Linked DNA regions of Homo sapiens: region 2 is linked to region 1. Evidence: fine-mapped expression QTL. Tissue or cell type: tibial nerve. Region 1 holds a variant in brackets; the other region holds the start of a gene. All regions are shown on one strand. Distances are between the middles of the regions.

Region 1 (10,441 bases):
AAAAGGCCATTTGTCAATATCTATCAAAATCATAAACTATATCCTTTGACCCAACACTTCTGCCTCTGGAAATTTATCTTACATATATTCTCTCACAGTGGGCAAAATGACAGTGATTATTCATTGCAACATTGTAATTGCAAAAGATTGGAAGTACTCTTAATGTCAAGCTATAGGGGGTTTAGTTAAATTAATTATAATTTATCAGTAGAAAACTATGCCAACATAAGAAATAATGAGAAAGGCATTTATATAGGCTATAGAGCAGAGGTCAGCAAAATATGGCCTAAAGGCCAAATCCAGCACACTGCCTATTTTGGTACTGGCCATAGCCTCAGAATAGTTATTACCTTTTTAAGTGATTGGAAAAAATTTTTTTTTAATTTCATTATGCATTATAATTATATGGTAACTCAAATTTCTATATCCAAAATGAAGTTTACTGAAACACGGCCACCTCCATTCATTTACATATTTTCTGTGGCTGCTTTCACACTATAAGGGCAGACCTGAGTAGTTGTAATAGAGACCCCATGGCTTGCAAAATGTAAAATGTTTACATTTTACATTTTTTACATCTGTCCAATTATAGAAAAAGTTCGGCAACTCTAATATAGAGTGTTTTCTGAGGTATTTTGTAAAATCAAAAAGGGAAGGTACAGAAATGGTATACAGCATGCTATTTTTTAGAAAAGAGAAAATAACAATATATGCATAAAATTTCTCTGGATATTTCTGAGAGGAAAACTGGGTGACTAGGGGGTGGGAGCATCATTTCCCAAGTATATCTTTTTTATATTTTAATTTTTGAATTAAATTGATTCAAATTGATTTTAATTATCTATCCAAATACTTAAATTTTTATGAATTTTGTAAAGCATAATCTCAACTTCAAAATTAAGCTAGAAATCAATCTTCATCTGTTTAAAGTACAGACAGTCCCTGCTTTATGAGTTTTTGACTTTACAATGCTGTGAAATCAATACACATTCGGTAGAAACTGTAATTCAAGTGCCCATACAACCATTCTGTTTTTCACTTTCAGTAGCATATTCAATAAATTATATGAGATATTTAGCACCTTATTATAAAACAGACTCTGGCTTAGATGATTTTGTGGGTTATGGTAAACATTCTGAGCACATTTGAGGTAGGCTAGGCTAAGTTATGATGTCGGGTTAGGTGTATCAAATGCATTTTTAACTTATGATATTTTCTATTTAATGATGGGTTTATTGGGATGTAAACATTGTAAGTCATGGAGCATCTATATTCAATATTGATAGGAAGCCTTAGATATAGCAGCAGGAGTATTTGTAAACAAACTTCCTGGAAATTAATTTGGTGTATATATAAAGAACCTTTTAAAAGTGCATGCCCTTTATATACCCAATAATTCCACTTCTAGGAATCTGCCCTAAAAAATTTAAAAGATCAGGCAAAGACTTATGTAACAAGATGTGTAAATGGTATAATTTATAGTGGTTGACAAAATTATAAATAGTCTAAATATTCAATAATAGTAGAATAGATAAATAAAATATGATACATTAATATGATGGAATATTGTATAACTATTTTTTAAATGGCGCTATTGGGGTATATATAATGCCATGAGGGTATTTTACCATATCATCTTAAGTTTAAAAAGAGAAATAAACAACTGTATATGCAATTTTATTTTCTTTTTAATATATATGCATGGGAAAATGCTGGAAGTAAATGTATCAAAATGTTAACAGGTATTATCTTTTTTATTTTTAATTTGTATGAGTACATAGTAGGTATATATATTTATGGAGTAAAAAATATGAGATATTTTGGTACAGGCATGCAATGTATAATAATCACATCCTGATAAATGGGGCATCCATCCCCTCAAGCCTTTATCCTTTGTGTTACAAACAACCCAATTATACTCTTTTAGTTATCTTTAAATGTACAATTAAGCTATTATGGACTATAGTTCCCCTTTTGTGCTATCAAATACTAAGTCTTATTCATTCTAACTTTTTTTTGCACCCATTAACCCACCCACCCTCCCTCCCACCCTCCCCTACTGCCCTTCCCAGCCTCTGATAACCATCCTTCTACTGTCTATCTCCATGAGTTCAATTGTTTTGATTTTTAGATCCCACAAATAAGTGAGAACATGTGATGTTTGTTTTTCTGTACCTGGCTTATTTCATTTAATAGTTCATTGTCTTTTAGTGGTAGAACTATGGGTGTTTTCATTTTCTTTGTTCTGTCTTTCCGAACTTCTTGCATCCTCCCTGAAATGAGTATATACTATTCACATAATTTGAGCAGCGGTGAGTGGTGGAGAGGGATGGTGATTGCTTTTTCAAAATAAGTATGGGGGAAGGGCATACTTGCCTTCTTCCTTCCATAGTAGAGCAGCCTAGTGAATTTCTCCACGATCTGCGCAGGTGTCTCCACACTGGGGGGGATCTCTCCCGTGAGCAGGTTCGGGGTCCCAGAGCTCAGCACTGGCCAGTCCTCATCGGTCAGGTTGATGAGGTTGGCCACAGGGGGCTGCCGCTTGTACTTCTCCAGCTTCTTGCAGTCTTGCATTAGCAGCTCAGCGATGTCAGACCCCACCATGGACTGTAAGGCAAAGAGGATCATCTGGGGAGAATCCTATGAGTCCTCAGGCTGGCAGCCCCAGCTGGAGAAGGAAGGCACCAGGGAGCCTGCCTTCTTCACATGGAAGCCAATTATGCAAACATAAGGCAGTCCTTTGTTAGATTGCTATATTTCAGACTTCAGCATCACTATCATGGTTATTTTCTGCCTGTCAGGAGCCATAAAGCTTACCAGAAACATTCACAATTTCACAGGTATATTATCTGGCTGGTGCAATAACCCAGAAACTGTACAATTTTCCCAGACCAAGGAAGAAGATCATCAGGGAAGATCTGCGTTAGCAAACTCGCATTGACATTTGAGCAATTTTTTCCCTTGGGGCAATTTGTGGCTTCTTTAATATTGCTTTTCATAATCATGTCATAAACATAATCTTATCTATCCCATGAAGACTTAAATTTCAGCCTGCACCTGCTCTCCCACCAGAACAGAACTTACCCCATTCTGGCGACAAAGGAGAACCAAGAGCTGCCACAGTAGAGCTGAGTCTCTGCTCCCCAGTGTCTCAGATTTGCAGCTCTGAGCTGCTTTCTGCTGGCAAAACGTCATAATATCCACCTTATGTACATCTTCCCTACATGGAAAAAATTTAGGGAGCAAAGAGTGAGCAGGCAGACACTTCCCTGTTTCGGACCCCAGGCTCCTCCTAAGTGTGCAAGTGCTGGCTGGGCTGTGATTGAGATAGAAATCTGACAAGCCAGGGCTAAGGTAATGAGTCTATAGCTATAGGATAGTTATTTTCTTATAGAACAAGAAGAAATTTCAGAGATTCTCTCATGCACCCCCTTTATAGATGAAGAAACAGAGGCTCAGAGACCTGAAGTCACTGCACAGGAAAGCAAGTAAAAGCAGACTTTGGAGTCAGACAACCCTGGATCTAAATCTGGCTCTGCCACTTCTCTGTTTAGACAAGTTTCTTACCTCCTCTGAGCCTCAGCTTTGTCCCCTAAAATAGGGACAGTAAAAGGACCTACCTCCATACAAAAAGGAATTAGAAAATTGTGTGGCATATATTAAGTGATCAATATGATTGGCATTATGATTTGCTCAAGATTATCCAATAACATCAAAGCCAAGTTAGGCTTAGTACCCCAGTGTTTGAATACCCAACTCGCTTTTTTGCCCCATATCTGTATACCTGTTTGTAAGAAAGAGATAACACTCATTTTTACTTGAGGGAACCGTCAAATGCCATTTGAGGAATACATTTATATAGTAGTGATGATACTTTCCATGTGCATAATCTGACTTGAGACTCATAGACAAGCCTCGGGTAGGGAGAGCAGGTGTTATACCATTTCTCAAGGGGAAAACTAAGGTTCAGAGAGGGCTAACTGACCTGTCCACCATGGTATTCCTAGTCAGTAAGACGCCTGAGCCTGAGACCCACGTGGGCTGTCATCCAGCAAGGACTCTCTCCTCAACAAAGATGCCCTGAGTTACATTTATCAGAAATATAACTAGACATTTAAAAGCAGTCCTAGTTCAGTACTGCAGAGGGCTCACTTGCACACTGTTCTGTAACTTGAACACTGCCGATCTTATTTACCTCTCCAGGAAAAAGCCACTGTTACAAGAATTGTTTCTGCTATGATCCACTTGTCAGTGACTTCCCAGGCGATGCTCCACTTTTCTACTAACATCTATCAAGCACACGGAATGCTAAAACTTCCAACCATGCAGCCTCTGCATAATGGAACTGGTTTTAGATTTCTAAACTGTCATGCTAATTTTTCTTTCTGTCCTTCAACTATTGAATGGCTTGTCAAAATGACTCAGGCCACATCTGGTTCTATCTTGCAGCACAGAGAATTCCACTCCAACAAGGACAGATATTTTTTTCCAAGGAAACCAAGAACAAATCTCCAAAATGCTGATCTGGGCAGGAAGATTTTCTAGGTTTCAAAAGCCCTTACTCAGCAGCTCTTACAGCACTATACCTAATCAAGGGTCCTGAGAAACTTCTCATCTCCTCTTGCTCTTCGGAATCATTAAGAATAACCTGGAATAAAACAATCAGATTTTGTGTTTAAGACTGTGGCCACCCTAGGCCCCTTTCAGTCAAGTCTAGTGTCAGACCCCAAGGCCGTGGGGCTAGGATATGGCTCAAGGCCTTGTGGAGAAAGCAGAAAGAAAAAAGTGAATTTTGTTGCTAAAGATGAGACATTGACATCTCAGGAAAAACACAACTGTAGCATCAATTCTTTCAGAGAAGAGCCCCACCCATTCCTGCACCCTCCTAATCCAGGGGGTACATGGCCCAGTTTCCCGCAAGAGCATCCCATTCCTGGAGATGCCCCGGCTCAGGCACAGGAAAGCAAGGTAAGCATGTTAGGAGTAGTTGGGTAAGCAGTGTGCCAGCATTCCAGGGACACTGGGTCTTCTTTACCTCCATGCTGTGCA[G/A]TTCAACAAGGGCTGCTTGCCCGTCAGTGGGAGAGCTGGGACCTACATGCACCAGCTGACCTCCTGGCCCGAAACTCACAGGAACATGAGGGATGTAGAACTTCATGGGTGCTTTGGGACCAGCTGAGGAGACATCTTCTGACCAACAGACACAGATGGACATTGTTAGCGTTACTTCCATCACTTTTCTTTAGTTTAGGAATATGCCACAGATGTATTTCTGCCCAAATTCTGCCTGAACCAAAATAAGATTCTGGGTGGGTTGTGTAATTAGAAGAAGCCCATGTTCCCTGCTCCAGTCAGATTTAAGCCTCTGAGAAGGTGTCAGAATACAATGCGTGGGCTTGATGATTCAGTCCAAATGATAATGCTCTCAGCCCAGACTCTCAGTGATGCTGAGAGGCCAAGGAGTCTCTGGCTTTCATGGCCTCTATACTCATGACAAAGTTCCTACATCCAGACAAAGCAATGAAGCTTTGCATCTTGCTTTTGCTTTTCCTAATTCTCTCTGGTCTTCCCTTTCTTAAAAGCACCACTGAGTGCCTCCTTTCCCAACTTGATAATGGATAGGGGCAGTGTTCCCTTCCAGGAATCAGCTATGATGCAATTACTATTACAAGCAAAAAGAGAGAAAATGGAACCAAAGTTGACCTCTCTGCCCAGGTGACCTACATAAGCAAATGAGGTGGACAATGATCCATCGTAAGGCTGACTTTCCCAGAGACTTGCCACCCAGCCCTTCCACATCAGATTCAATCAACTCTTCTGATCATTTTAGAACCCACCAGCCTGAACTGGACTCCAAGCTGCTGAAGCTGGGGGATCATCCCGCTCCGGGGCATCTCTGATGTACTGACTGAGCTCATAGCTGCTGGAGCTGAGACCAGACTCACGCTGCTGGAGAAGGTTGGACTCACTAGCCAATGATGGCTGAAAGTTAAAAACAAAAACACACAGGAAGAAGTTTCAGAGAGCTGGTCTTCTCAAGCGTTCCTTCAAAGAAACAAAATACATACGGTGAAAGTGGATGTGTTGAAAGGATAAAAAGAGATAATCAAGTTGATAGGCATTTGCCAAAGGATATATTATGACCCAATGGAAAGAGTGCAGGCCTTGGGGTCAGGGGCCCTTGAATTGAAATCTCAGCTTTGCCTTATACTCAGCTGCTGTGCCCCTGGACACGTGACTTAGGCTCTCTGAGCTCAGTGCTTTCATCTGTGATATAATCATATCTGCCCTATATACTTCAAGCAATTCATGTATTCATTCATAAACAATTTTCTTTTTTGAGACAGAGTCTCACTCTGTCACCAGGCTGGAGTGCAGTGGCATGATCTCGGCTCACTGCAACCTCCACCTCCTGGGTTCAAGCGATTCTTCTGCCTCAGCCTCCCAAGTAGCTAGGACTACAGGCACGCCACCACGCCCAGCTGATTTTTGTATTTTTAGTAGAGATGGGGTTTCACCATGTTGGCCAGGATGGTCTCAATCTCTTGACATTATGATCTGCCCACCTCAGCCTCCCAAAGTGCTGGGATTACAGGCGTGAGCCACCATGCCTGGCCCTCCTTCATTGACTGTTTAATGAGCACCTATTATGCTCCAGGTACTGTGCTTTCCCCTTGGATGCAGGTGTAAAGAAATTCATGGGGCCAGGTATGATGGCTCTCACCTGTAATCCCAGCACTTTGGGAGGCCAAAGCAGGAGGATCACTTGAGCCCACGAATTTGAGACCCCAAATTGCAACATAGCAAGACCCCATCTCTACAAAAAAACAAAACATAAAAAAATTTAGCTGGGCATGGTGGTGCACAACTATAGCCCCAGCTACTTGGGAGGCTGAGGTGGAAGGATCACCTGAGCCCAGGAGTTCAAGGCTGCAGTGAGCTATGATCATGCTGTTACACTCCAGCCTGGGTGACAGAGCAACACTCTGTCTCTAAATAAATAAATAAAGAAATTCATTGAATTTACATCTTGTGTGCATACAAGTAAAATAATGGATTCAAAAGCTCTTTGGGCCAAGCGCAGTGGCTCACACCTGTAATCCCAGCACTTTGGGAGGCCGACGCAGGAGGATCACCTGAGGTAAGGATTTCCAGACCAGCCTGGCCAACATGGTGAAACCCCATCTCTACTAAAAAATACAAAAATTAGCTGGGCATGGTGGTGCACACCTGTAGTCCCAGCTACTAGGAAGGCCGAGGCAGGAGGATCACTTGAACCAGGGAGGCGGAGGTTGCAGTGAGCCGAGATTGTGCCACAGCACTCCAGCCTGGGCAACACAGTGAGACTCTGTCTCAAAAAAATAAAATAAAATAAAAAGTAAAGCTCTTTGTACAGTGTAAGGTGCTGTACATATGTATGTGGCTGCTGTCATTGTATTGTTACTATTAGTCATAATAATATGTGCCCTACTCTATTAAGCACTAAGTATACAAAAGAAATTGACCTCATACAAACCTAATAAGGGAGACAAGATTAATACAAGACTTTCAAAATTACAACCCCATCTCTGGCCGAGCGTGGTGGCTCAGGCCTGTAATCCCAGCACTTTGGGAGGCCGAGGTGGGTGGATCACAAGGTCAGGAGTTCAAAACCAGCCTGGCCAACATGGTGAAACCCGGTCTCTACTAAAAATACAAAAATTAGCTGGGCATGGTGGCAGGCACCTGTAATCCCAGCTACTCGGGAGGCTGAGGCAGGAGATTCGCTTGAACCCAGGAGGTGAAGGTGGCAGTAAGCCGAGATTGCACCACTGCACTTCAGCCTGGGCAACAGAGTGAGACTCTGTCTCAAAAGAAAAGAACCCATCTCTGTAGTATATTTGCAAATTTTCCACAAATCTAAAATTATCCTAAAATAAAAAGTTTATTTTAAAAAAGATTTCCATTTTGTGGCCCAGCTGGCGCATACAATAAGATTTTTAGAGGAAAGGGATGAATGAAGAGTTAGAAAAGGTTTCAAGCCCTGCTTCTCAAACCTGAATTCAAAGATTCTAGCAATTTCCCACTTCCTGGATTAAACCAAATTGCTAGTCCCCTGGGGTCCCTAACACCTAACACCTGATGACAGCGTCCTCTCTTTCCCAGTATGTTGGAGTGAGCTAGGTGACATTTCTTGATCCTGTCAATTTGATAAAAATGCAAAGGAGTTCAGTTCAGGGCCTCGGATGCCTAAGACTGAGGCAGTAAGGAGGGAAAAAAGGAAGGCATGGGCGGAGGTTCTGCCAAGAGGGGAGGAATGGGTCCTCCAGACGGCTGGCCACTGGACATCCATCCCCAAGGGCCCTGTTCTGCCACTGCTGACAGTGTCAGCTGCGACACATGGCCACAGTCTCCAGCCCCCACGTCACTTTAGGTTACCTTATTTTTCTGGGCCTCAGCAAGCAGGCTCCCTGGAAACAGCTCCCCCGGCCACTCCTGTCCAGAGTTGGAAGCAGGGCTGTCTTTACAAGGGTTCCTACTGTTAGATCTGCAGCAAAATGACAGGAGCAGTGAGCGGGGTCCTGGGCAAGCCAGCAAGGCTGAGGCACTCTCCGCCGGAAGCTGACCTGCTCCAAAGCGTGGGCAGGTACCATGTCAGCCTGGGTGCCATAGGAGAAAGCATTTTCCTCCTACTCACCACCTCAATCTACTAATCCCAGAAAAACAGGAGTGCTGGAGTTCCACAGCTCAGTGGCTGGAAGTGGCCTCAGGCCCTGATGAGAAGGGTTGGTCTCTACAGCCTGACATTCTGGAATGACTTACATCAGAGTGTTTAGGTTGGTGAATTCCACAGCTGCAAGCACCAGGACAGATGCTTGAGCAAAACTCTCTTCCCTGTCTTGTCTTACCACAGGGAGATGGCCCATTCTCAGGGCTCAGGCGTAGGCTGAGGAAAAGCACCACAGCACCAGGTAAGTTCTCATGACCTAATCGTGAGAACTTTTGCTAGGCCATATCTGTTCTAAGGCCAACACAGAATTAAAGTCCTCTTTTAGGACAGACCTCAAGGAACCTCACAGGACTCAGACTCGCCCAGCTTTGGGAACAGACTGTCAGTGATAAGAACCTCCCTTCCCAGGGTCCATATTAACAGCTGGCCAGGCCCATCCTGGGATATTCCCATATCCCTGTGGCTACAACAAAGGTACATGGGCTTCTGGAGGTGAGATGGCAGCATCAGACGCCAGAAGATTTGCCCGACATAGTCTGAGTTTGACAACATCATGTCAAACTGGCCTCTCCTTTCACACTTACTGGAAGTGGGTCTCACTATTTGTTCCAAATGGACTGTGCTGGTTTTCATAATGATGTTCATCAAGGTACTTTTGCTCTCGGTAATCTTCGTGCCAGATATAAGGACTCCGTTGCCTTGGCACTGCACCCTCAGAGAAAACAAAATCAAGACAGGTCACTTCCTGTTTCTGAAAGTTCTTAGAAAGATATTAGTGAGCTGTGAGGAGCTCCTGGAGCACAGTAGATCTAAAAACATATTTTCCAAATTGAAAAAATAGATAGGTGAGAGCTAATAAAGAAAGTCCATAGGACGCCTCTCAGTCCCCTCTGAACTAGTTAGCATGGATCTATACAACCGCACAACGATGGGGATTGGTGTGTGTGTGTGTGTTCAATGTTGAAACAGATTTATCTTTCCTAGCAGTTCAGATGCTGCCATTAAGACACACCCTATACCTATTAGCATACGGTAGAACACTCATTTGGGTGCATATCTGCTGTCCTCAGGGTGAAGTGATACACTCTTACTATAGCCCAGCAGATGTCCTTAAGAACTGACTTCACTGTTACTTGGTCAAAGACTATATAATCTGGGCTATAAGGCAAAGTAGGAGAAAAAACATGGATGAAGTACAAACTACCCATAGTGCTAGTAACAGTACCATCATCTATGCATACAAAGGAAAACAACTCCTTTATATCTCTTCTCAGGACATCTAGGAGGAGTGTTTCTGCTATGGTCTCGTCTGGCCAAGAAAGGATGCCCAAGGTGAGGGTCTGAACATGGCTCCTTTGGTCTCTCCCCTGCCTCTCAGACCAGCTGCCCCATCCCCAAATCCCAGAGGCTTCTTGGAGACTTTTCCATACCTCTTTCTTCCTGCAGCCACTGTGGGTGTCCATGATAGTAATAACTTCCATAAGCATATTCCTCCCTCATTGTGGGAGACTGATAGCTCTGATATGAATTCTCATAACCTGGCCTAAAATATCACAAAGAAGACTGGTCAGTTGAGGACAAGGGTAGTAAAGAGAGAAACCAATGAAGAACTTGACAAACTAAACAGGTTCAGAGGACAGAGTTGTGACCCCAGCCTAGAATCTGCTTGAAAGCCACAGTTAATTCTAGATCCTGTAAACAGAATCAAAGCAGGAGTCAGGCCTTTGTTGCACA
Region 2 (10,441 bases), 76 kb after region 1:
CCAGCTCAATGCCCAAAACCAGCTTTTCTACTAAAACTACCTAGTCCAAATGAACAGCCAGCTCAAGGACTCAGAAAACAAAATGTTGTTCTTCATTAAAACACTCAATGCAAACAAAGCTCTGTGCAAAGTGTTGTCACATTAATGAAGAGAAGGAGTTTAACATTTGAAAAAATGAAGTGCTTAGCTGAGAAACAAGACATGACCAAATAAATACAAAGAAAAAGAGGGAGAGGGGAAGACAGGAATGAGGGATAGGTGGAAATTAAAGAAAAACAAAGGAGAAAAAACATCTTCAACCATTAATCTTGAGTGGTACAGATACCTTCTGGTCAGTGACGCATTCTTCAGCCATACAATTAAAGTTTCTTGTGCCAATAACTCTATCTCCCTAAAGGAAACATACCATTAAGGATATGTGCAAATGTATGACCTTGCATTCCTTTTCCTGAATTAATCAAAAAAGAAAAAAAAATGCACATCTCTGACTCCATAAGACACAGGTTGGTCTTAATTATTCAGAGTTACTGTTTAGTAAATAAAATAATAACTCTCTCAATACCACCACCAGGCTGTGAAGCCAATTTGAGTGAGCACATTTGAGACGAAGAGAGAGAGTAAGGGAAAGGTTGATTTGAATTAGAAGCCCACTCTTAATTTCACAAGAGAATCAAATTCTCTGTCCTCTTGGTTAAAGACTGAGGTGCCGCCTTTTATTCATAATGAAAAGTTTAATGAAGCCAGGAACTTCCAATTACTTCCTTTCCCCAGAAAGAATTTTGTTTCTTACCTTTCTAGTTAGGTTTCCCTTTGGTGTCTGCAGGCAAAAGCCAGTAGAAGCAAGACCCTTTGGCTACAAATGAAGTTAGCATATTTTTCATAGCTACATATACATTGATTCCCTAGACTTCAATTAATTTACCTCTTTAACTGTCCTGACATCTGTGCCTGTCTCCAATACTGTCCCAGAAAAGTCCATTCCTAAAAACATATTGTTTAAAGATTAGGTTATCTGTAAAACACAACACCATGGAGATGAGAAAACACTGATCGACAGGCTATTCCAACAGCTTTCGGAGCTGAGGATTTAGGTGCCCCTCCTCCTCTCCATATGCAGGTAGAGAGGTAAGGTGTTATACTCAAAGCACAGGAAAGTAAACATAAGATTTCACCATCACAACCTGGGAAGCTATAGCAGTCTCAATCTTACCATGACACAAATGAAAATTTCAAGAATGTGCAAAAGCACAGAGAATCACAGGTACACAGGTACTTTTGACCCTAATCACTGGGACCTCCTATAGCACCCCAGTGACAATGTTCATCCTATTTATTTATCTGTTTTCAAGTCTCTTCTGCTGGCCTGTAGGGCCCTCAAGGACATGAACTGTGTTTATTCAGACAGTACTTGGCTCAACTGGATGAACTGGTGCTGTCTGCCCTTTCCTTTTTCACCTCTGAAATTTCTGAATTAATGATGATGTTTCCTACTTGAGCTGCCAGGGGAATAACTCAATTGTGTATGACATCTTCCCCCCAACCAGTATTTCAGCAAATATAAACAGAAGGAAATGGTTCTAACTGTCGAGATACAATCAAACACCCTGAAAACAAAACACGGTAACTATTTGCAATCACTCTATCTTTCATGATATATATCTGTATAAAATGTACATGTACTATATACATGCTAAGCTATACTTACATCCCTTTAAATAAATTTCAACAACAAAAATCAGTCACTTGTCCACATGTGCAGGATCTAGGGGTAGACTGGGAACAAAAATCAGGCAGAGGGCTGCTAAGAAATCCACACTCTTCTTCTCTCTGATCCTTTGGCATTAGGTTTTGTTTGTTTGTTTGTTTGTTTTGTTTTTGAGACGGAGTCTCACTCTGTTGCCCAGGCTGGAGTGCAGTGGCATGATCTTGGCTCACTGCAACCTCCGCCTTCTAGGTTCAAGCAATTTTCCTGCCTCAGCCTCCCGAGTAGCTGGGACTACAGGCGCACACCGCCACGTCCGGCTAATTTTTGTATTTTGGTAGAGACAGGGTTTCACCATTGTTGCCCAGGCTGGTCTTGAACTCCTAGGCTCAGGCAATCCGCCCGCCTCAGCCTCACAAAGTGCTAGGATTACAGGCGTGAGCCACCATGCCCGGCCTGGCATTAGGTTTTATTGGGAATGTGTCTGTGAGGCTGAAAGTTTTAGCTGCAAACAGATGTCTGTGATCCTTCAGTGAAGAAACAAAACTGGGGCAATATCCAGCAAGGAAAGGGAATGAATGGCTAGGACCAATGATAATTCTGGTGAAAATTCATTTGTTCATTTCTTCATTTTTAGAGTATTTATTGAGCACCTACTAAGAGCCACGTACAATGCTAAGCTGGGGGATATAATGTTGATCAAGACAGGCATAGACTTTGCCCTCATGGGGCTCACAATCCAGTGATCCCAATACACAGTGAGATGGACACATATAACTGAAACATCACCGATGGCAGGCAGACACCAACAGAGCACTGCCTGAGCCCAGGGGCATGATTCTGAAAACTCCCTGTATCTTTTTTTCCTGAAGCAGTCACTTGGTCTCCCTATACTCACCAGGTGTGAAGGGAAGATGGGGCCTTTCCTGATATTGATCACGGCAGATCAAAATATCACCAAAGTTAACTCCACAGAAATGGACATCAACTCTGACCTACAAAAGAAATAGAGCAGCAAAGCAGAACAGTACACATCCACGGAGACAATGTTTATTCAATCATACCAAAATAGTTACTGAATGACAACAACATGCCAGGTACTAAAGTAACAGCTGGCACACACTCATGGGCAAGGCCTCTGCCTTCATGAAGCTAAAGTATAGGAGGGAAAACAGATATTAACCAGATAATAATGAAGATACATATATTAAGTTATAACTCCAGTACCAAGCATTAATGATAAAAAATATATGGTGCTATGAAAGCACATAATGGAAGGATTTGACCACTTAGGGAAGTCAGGAAAAGCATTCCTAAGTAAGCAACACTTTGAACTAACAACTGAGAGTTAACTATTCAAAATAGGAGGCAAAAGCCTTGGCACAGACAAAAGCAATGGCGTGTACAAAGACACTACAGTGGGGACACAAGAGAGTTTGAAGCCTTACTGAGGATTTTTTTTTTTTTAAGACGGACTCTCACACTGTTGCCCAGGGTGGAGTGCAGTGGCATGATCTCAGCTCACTGCAACCTCTGCCTCCCCGGTTCAAGCAATTCTCCTGCCTCAGCCTCCCAAATAGCTGGGATTACAGGCATGCACCACCACACCCAGCTAATTTTTTTTGTATTTTTAGTAGAGACAGGGTTTCACCATATTAGCCAGGCTGGTCTTGAACTCCTGACCTCGTGATCCGCCTGCCTCAGCCTCCCAAAGTGCTGGGATTACAGGCGTGAGCCACTGCATCCGGCCTCCTTACTGAAGATCTTAATTTTCATACTAGGAACAATGGGAAGTCATTAATGAGTTTTAAACAGAAGGGTAAAATGATCAGCTCTTTGGGGAATCTGGAATCCTTTACCCTAGTCCCAGATCCCCAGCCTCTATGTTTTGTGATAGTGCCATAGCTGAGGCAGACCTACAGCAGTGTAGCCAGTAGTTTCTCTAGGCCTTGTAAGCCCACGGTTCTCAAAATGTGGCCCCAGACCACCAGCATCAGTATCACCTGGCACAGGCCAGGCACAATGGCTCATGCCTGTAATCCCAGCACTTCAGGAGGCCAAAGCAGGAGAATCACTTGAGCCCAGGAGTTCGAGACTAGCCTGGGCAACCATCTCTACAAAAATAAAAATTAAAAAATTAGCCAGGAATGGTGGCATGTGCCTGTGGTCTCAGCTACTTGGGAGACTGGGGTGGGAGAACTGCTTGAGCCTGGGAGGTCAAGGTTGCAGTGAGCCATGATCATGCCACTGCACTCCAGCCTGAGTGACAGAGTGAGACCCTATCTCAAAAAAAAAAAAAAAAAAGAAAAGAAATTCAAATTATCAAGCCCCATCCCAGACCTACTGAATCAGAAGCTCTGAAGACAAAGCCTAGCGTTCTGTTTTAACAAGCCTCAAGACCAGGGGTTCCCAACCCCGGGGCCACAGACCGGTATGCTGTCAGGAATCCAGCTGCACAGCAAGAGGTGAGCAGACAAAGCAAGCATACCGCCCAGCTCTGCCTCCCGTCAGATCAGTGGCGGCATCAGATTCTCACAGAAGTGCGAACCGTATTGTGAACTACACAGGCAAGGGATCCAGGTTGCGCACTCCTTATGAGAATCTAATGCCTGAGGATCTGCGGTGGAACAGTTTCATTCCAAAACCATCCCCTCCAACCCCCATCAGTCCATGGAAAAACTGTCTTCCACAGAACTGGTGCCAAAAAGGTTGCGGACCGCTGTGCTAGACAACCACTGTCATAAACCAACACATCCCAACAGGGGTTGGAATTACTGGAAGAAATGAAAGCTGAGACACCAAAGGGATGATATTGATTTGTTTGTACAGAGGTGGCCATATTGGTGAGAAGAAATTTTTATCTACAAAATTCATTCATTCAACAATTTTTTAAGCCTCTGCCACATGCCAGGAACCATTTTAGACTTAAGGGATTTAGTAGTGAGTAAAACAAACATAGTCACAGCTCTCATGGGCTAATTCCTTACAATGCAATGTCTAGGACAAATAACAGAACAAAGGAGCCTAGCCCTCAGCCTGGACACATTCCATGCAGGACACATCAGTTATTGACAGGCATGCACAGGGCACACATGTGTTCTCCAGCCACTCCACCTAGATTTAAGGATGATTTGAGGATGAATGTCGTTCAGCATGTGAATCCCAGGAAGTAGATTGGCTGCCATCATGTGCTCATTCAAATAATCCGTGTTAGCCATGTTAGTTAACAGGCTCCATGCTGGTAACACTTCAGGGCTATGGCTGCCTTTCTCCCTCTCCCTGAAGGTCTCCAACACTGAGGCCCACTATCTGCTTCACGCTGTCTGAGGTTCTCATCTCCACACCAGATGACACTGTGTTACTAGAGTGGTCAATAGGCAAGGCCAAAATGATGTCCACATTTCAGTGGACCAGCTGCCCACATCCCTAAACGAACCCCATCCCAAATGTCTGCAATATACCAGAGGCGTATGTTCACATGGAAACACGGAGGTTACCGGGCTGGTTTCAGGGAGGCAGAGGCCGAATAATTCGATTCCGGCACTGAGGTGGAAGGAAGCAAAGGATGAGGTCCATGTACCTGTGTTAAACCAATAACTTGCACATACAAAGTCGTGTGCAAATCAGAATTCTCTGTTTCTAAGGCAACAGCTCTGAGCATTGAGAAAGAGGCCTATAGGCGTGTTTTGGGGGAACAATCTTCCTTTAGCACTTTAGACCTTGGAAAGGGCTTCAGCCCCCTAGCTATCCCAGGACGAAGTTGCCCTCCACTCTCTCGGTCGCCCCCTCGCTTCAGAACTGGGAACTTGATTCAAGAAGGAAGCCTGCGGGGAGTGTGTGGTGGCGGGGAGAAGGGGAGGGTAGAAGGGGATAAGCCAGCCCCCTACCTCGTGAGGCCCGACGGGGCGGGGGCCACCTCTTCAATGGTCAGGGGCTTCTTCAGCTCTGCGCAAATCGCAGCGCGGTAGTGCCGGCCGCTGCCCTGTCCGGCTCTCCTGCAACACAAAACAAGGGAAGGGTCAGTCGGGCAGCCCCGCCGGGAGCACCCTGGGACTGCCTTGCGGGGCTCAGGGAGGAGTCGGGGTTGCACCTGCAGACCCACGCCCGAGGGAGGCACTGCCTGCAGAGCACGGCCGCCAAGGCCAAGCCCAGCGAGGGGCGAGGGGGAGTGGCCAGAGCGCGGCAGGAAGAGCCGGACAGCGCCGCCCAGCCCCGGGAGAGCGGAAGGGCGGCCCGCGAGGCCTCCTGGCGACGCGCCCTGGCAGCCACGACCCAACCCCGGCGGGGCAGCTCCGGTCCAGTGCGCCCGGCTTCTACGGCCGCCGAGACCAAACGACCGCGCGAGCTCCCTGTTGGGCCTCTCTGGAGGTGGAGCCGGCTGGAAGAAAAAAAGAATAAAGGAAAACACCAGGAAACGGAATTCGATTACCCGAGATTAACCTTCTTTGGCATTTTTATAACAAATTTGGGAGACTTTTTTTTTTTGTAGTTTCAACTTTTATTTTAGATTCAGGGGCTACATGTGCAGATGTGACCTGGGTATATTGTGTGATGCTAAGGTTCAGGGTACGAATCATCTCGTCACTTCGGTGCTGAACATAGTACCTAATAGTTTTTCAACCCTTGCCCCCCTCAAAATTGGGAAACTTTTTAAACCACACTTGGCGACATTTAAATAGTGGTTCTTGGCTGGGTGGTTAACGCCTGTAATCCCAGCACTTTTGGAGGCCAAGGCGGGTGGTGGCCAGTGTCTGTGGTCTCAGCTACTCAGGAGGCTGAGGCGGGAGGGTCGCTTGAGTGCAGGAGTTGGAGGCTGCGGTGAACTATGATCGCACCACCCTGAGTGACAGAGTGAGACCTTCTCTATCGATTAGATAGATAGACAGACAGACAGATGATACATAGATAAAGGTTATTGGGTCCTCTGCCAGTGCAAAAAATCCTAAATGCACAGGTAAAGGCTTTATTTATGTATTTATTTTTGAGACAGTGTCCTTCTCTGTCACCCAGGCTGGAGTGTAGTGGCACTATTTCGGCTCACTGCAACCTCCGCCACTTAGGGTCAAACCATCCTCCCGCCTCAGCCTCCCATGTAGCTGGTACTATAGTTGTGCGCCACCATATCTGGCTAATTTTTGTATTTTTTTAAAGACGGGTTTCATCATTTTGCCCAGGCTGGTCTCGAACTCCTGGCCTCAAGCGCCCTGCCCGCCTCAGCCTTCCAAAGTGCTAGGATTACAAGTGTGAGCCACCACACCTGCCTAGGTGAAGGCTTTAAAGTCAGCATTTGAACACCTTGTTAGAGTTCAATTCTTGTTACTAATTTTCTCACATTTGCAGGACCATTTACACTAAATCCAAAGAGTTACTAATGATCCAATGTTGAATGAGCCTACACAAATCCAAATAATACTTCCAGTTAAAATCAGACCAAAACCCACCACGGGGAGAGTGGAAGAGCATTGGTTCTCATGTCCCCAATGCCAGTATTATGCTTGGCACATAGTAGATGCTCAATAAATGATTGTTGACTCGAAGACCAACACAGACCATTCACACTAGGCGAATAAGCACACTCTGGAAGAATTGAAAATATACAATATAATCTGTGAAATATTATAAAATTGGGTAGATCTCTATTGCAACAGTAACCAAATATTTATAGGCTAGCTATATAAGAGAAGCACACATTATGTTGGAGAGAATATTTCGTTTGACAGGTAACTTTTAAAGACAGCCTGATGTCTTTAAAAGACATCTGGCAGAAGAGTAGTCTCAGGTTCAAGCCCAGCTCTCCCACTTATTTGCGGGTTTAACATTGACATTTCTTGGCTCTCTGTCTCAGTGAACTCCTCTGTAAAATGAACACATCGGGCAGAATAATCCCTAAGTTCTAAATTCCTTCTATTTTTTGACAGAAACAGAATTCCCAGATAGAGCATGACCTGGAAGGCATGATCAGGAATGGAATAAAGGGAAAATGGAGAGCAAAAATGAAGTAGGAATGAACTTCTGAGATTATAGCCTAAAGGCTCTGGGGAAAAGGAGTACAAGAGCAAGGTCCTCACCTTGGATATACAACAGAGCTTACTGTTATTTTAATAGCACTCACAAGGAATTTGAGAAGTCATTTTAGTCCTCTCCCCCTTCCCACAAGAGGAAGACTAGAACAATGACTAGAAGCTGAGAAGTTGAAAAAACTTGTGTTTCCAATGAGACAATAAAGCACTTTGTGAACTGTTAATCATTAGACATATAAAATCAAACCAGGAATAATGGAGAAATACTAATGTTATCATCAAAGTGAACATTCTGGTTGCCAAATAACAGTGAGCAACTGGGTGCAGTGGCTCACACCTGTAATCTCAGCACTTTGAGAGGCCGAGGGAGGTGGATCGCTTGAGGCCAGGAGCTCACAGCCTGGGCAAGATAATTGTCAGGCCTCTGAGCCCAAGCTAAGCCATCATATCCCCTGTGACCTGCACATATACATTCAGATGGCCTGAAGCAACTGAAGATTCACAAAAGAAGTGAAAATAGCCTTAACTGATGACATTCCACCATTGTGATTTGTTTCTGCCCCACCCTAACTGATCAATGTACTTTGTGATCTCCCCCACCCTTAAGAAGGTTCTTTGTAATTCTCCCCACCCTTGAGAATGTACTTTGTGAGATCCACCCCCTGCCCGCAAAACATTGCTCCTAACTCCACCGCCTACCCCAAAACCTATAAGAACTAATGATAATCCCACCACCCTTTGCTGACTCTCTTTTCGGACTTAGCCCGCCTGCACCCAGGTGAAATAAACAGCCTTGTTGCTCACACAAAGCCTATTTGGTGGTCTCCTCACATGGACGTGCATGACATTGGGTGCTGAAACCCGGGACAGGAGGACTCCTTCGGGAGACCAGTCCCCTTCCCCTGTCCTCGCCCTCACTCCTTGAGGAGATCCACCTGCAACCTCGGGTCCTCAGACCAACCAGCCCAAGGAACATCTCATGAATTTCAAATTGGGTAAGCGGTCTTTTCACTCTCTTCTCCAGCCTCTCTTGCTACCCTTCAATCTCCCTCTCTCGCTACCCTTCAATCTCCCAGTCCTTCCAACTCCAGTTCTTTTTCCTCTCTAGTAGAGACAAAGGAAACACATTTTATCTGTAGACTCCAGCGCCAGTCACGGACTTGGGAAGACAGTCTTCCCTTGGTGTTTAATCACTGCGGGGACGCCTGCCTGATTATTCACTCACACTCCATTGGTGTCTGATCACCGCGGGGACGCCTGCCTTGGTCATTCACCCACATTCCTTTGGTGGCAAGTCAATTGCGGGGACACCTGCTTTGGCTGCTCACCTACTCCCTTCTCCATGTCTCTACCTTTCTCTTTAAACTTACCTCCATTACTATGGGCAACCTTCCACCCTCCATTCCCCCATCTTCTCCCTTAGCCTGTGTTCTCAAAAACTTAAAACCTCTTCAACTCTCGCCTGACCTAAAACCTAAGCGTCTTATTTTCTTCTGCAACACCGCTTGGCCCCAATACAAACTCAATAATGGTTCTAAATAGCTAGAAAATGACACTTTTGATTTCTCCATTTTACAAGACCTGGATGATTTTTGTTGAAAAATGGGCAAATGGGTCTGATGTGCCTGACATCCAGGCATTGTTTCATACACTGGTCCCTCCTTAGTCTCTGCTCCCAATGCGACTCATCCCAAATCTTTCTTCTTTCTCTGCGGTCTGTTCCTTCAGTCTCCACCCCAAGCTCTGAGTCCTTTGAATGCTCCTTTTCTACAGACCCATCTAACCTCTCCCCTCCTACCCAGGCTGCTCCTCACCAGGCTGAGCCAGGTCCCAATTCTTCCTCAGCCTCCGCTCCCCGATCCTATAATCCTTTTATCACCTCCCCTCCTCACACCCGGTCCAGTTTACAGTTACATTCCTCCACTAGCCCTCCCCCACCTGCCCAACAATTTCCTCTTAAAGAGGTGGCTGGAGCTGAAGGCATAGCCAAGGTAAATGCTCCTTTTTCCGACCTCTCCCAAATCAGGGTTTAGGCTCTTTTTCATCAAATATAAAAACTCAACCCAGTTCATGGCCCGTTTGGCAACAACCCTTAGACGGTTTACTGCCCTAGACCCAGAAGGGCCAGAAGGCCGTCTTATTCTCAATATGCATTTTATTACCCAATCCACTGGCGACATTAGAAAAAGCTCCAAAAATTAGATTCTGGCCCTCAAACCCCACAACGGGACCTAATTAACCTCACCTTCAAGGTGTACAATAATAGAGTAGAGGCAGCCAAGTAGCAACGTATTTCTGAGTTGCAATTCTTTGCCTCCACCGTGAGACAAACCCCAGCCACATCTCCAGCACACAAGAACTCCAAATGCCTAAACTGCGGCGGCCAGGCATTCCTCCAGGACTGCCTGCCCCAGGATCTTGCTTCAAGTGCCAGAAATCTGGCCACCGGGCCAAGGAATGCCTGCAGCCTGGGATTCCTCCTATGCCATGTCCCATCTGTGCGGGACCCCACTGGAAATTGGACTGTCCAACTTACCCGGCAGCCACTCCCAGAGCCCCTGGAACTCTGGCCCAAGGCTCTCTGACTGATTCCTTCCCAGATCTTCTTGACTTAGCAGCTGAAGACTGATGCTGCCCGATTGCCTTGGAAGCCCCCCTAGACCATCACAGATGCCGAGCTTCGGGAACTCTCACAGTGGAGGGTAAGTCCGACCCCTTC

Direction of the effects. Alleles are on the strand shown, and positions count from the first base shown. SD is a standard deviation of normalised expression in the study named.
For the expression in tibial nerve of the gene that starts at base 5,872 in region 2, A is the high allele of the variant in region 1 and G is the other (large effect, 0.79 SD a copy in GTEx).

Evidence for each region. PIP is the estimated chance that this variant, and not a neighbour inherited with it, causes the effect.
Region 2: it holds the start of CRYZL2P-SEC16B, and the variant in region 1 is fine-mapped to the expression of CRYZL2P-SEC16B in tibial nerve (GTEx, PIP above 0.99). The same link has a PIP of 0.9 or more in adrenal gland, aorta, atrial appendage, cerebral cortex, coronary artery and esophagus muscle.

The regions. Positions count from the first base shown.
Region 1 is chr1:177,955,756-177,966,196 of GRCh38, forward strand. CRYZL2P-SEC16B (CRYZL2P-SEC16B readthrough) reads right to left here. Exons shown (of 32, transcript NM_001356506.2): 9 at 10,138-10,250; 10 at 9,292-9,412; 11 at 8,416-8,524; 12 at 5,835-5,979; 13 at 5,036-5,184; 14 at 4,587-4,648; 15 at 3,085-3,220; 16 at 2,377-2,607. It overlaps SEC16B (SEC16 homolog B, endoplasmic reticulum export factor), which reads right to left. Exons shown (of 26, transcript NM_033127.4): 3 at 10,138-10,250; 4 at 9,292-9,412; 5 at 8,416-8,524; 6 at 5,835-5,979; 7 at 5,036-5,184; 8 at 4,587-4,648; 9 at 3,085-3,220; 10 at 2,377-2,607. Among named protein-coding and RNA genes, the nearest start is that of SEC16B, 9.1 kb to the right of the region's middle. RefSeq lists an enhancer at 4,038-4,539. The variant G/A (reference allele first, on the strand shown) is at 5,050.
Region 2 is chr1:178,032,105-178,042,545 of GRCh38, forward strand. It overlaps CRYZL2P-SEC16B (CRYZL2P-SEC16B readthrough), which reads right to left and starts at 5,872. Exons shown (of 32, transcript NM_001356506.2): 1 at 5,793-5,872; 2 at 5,590-5,697; 3 at 2,601-2,697; 4 at 923-981; 5 at 326-391. It also overlaps the pseudogene CRYZL2P.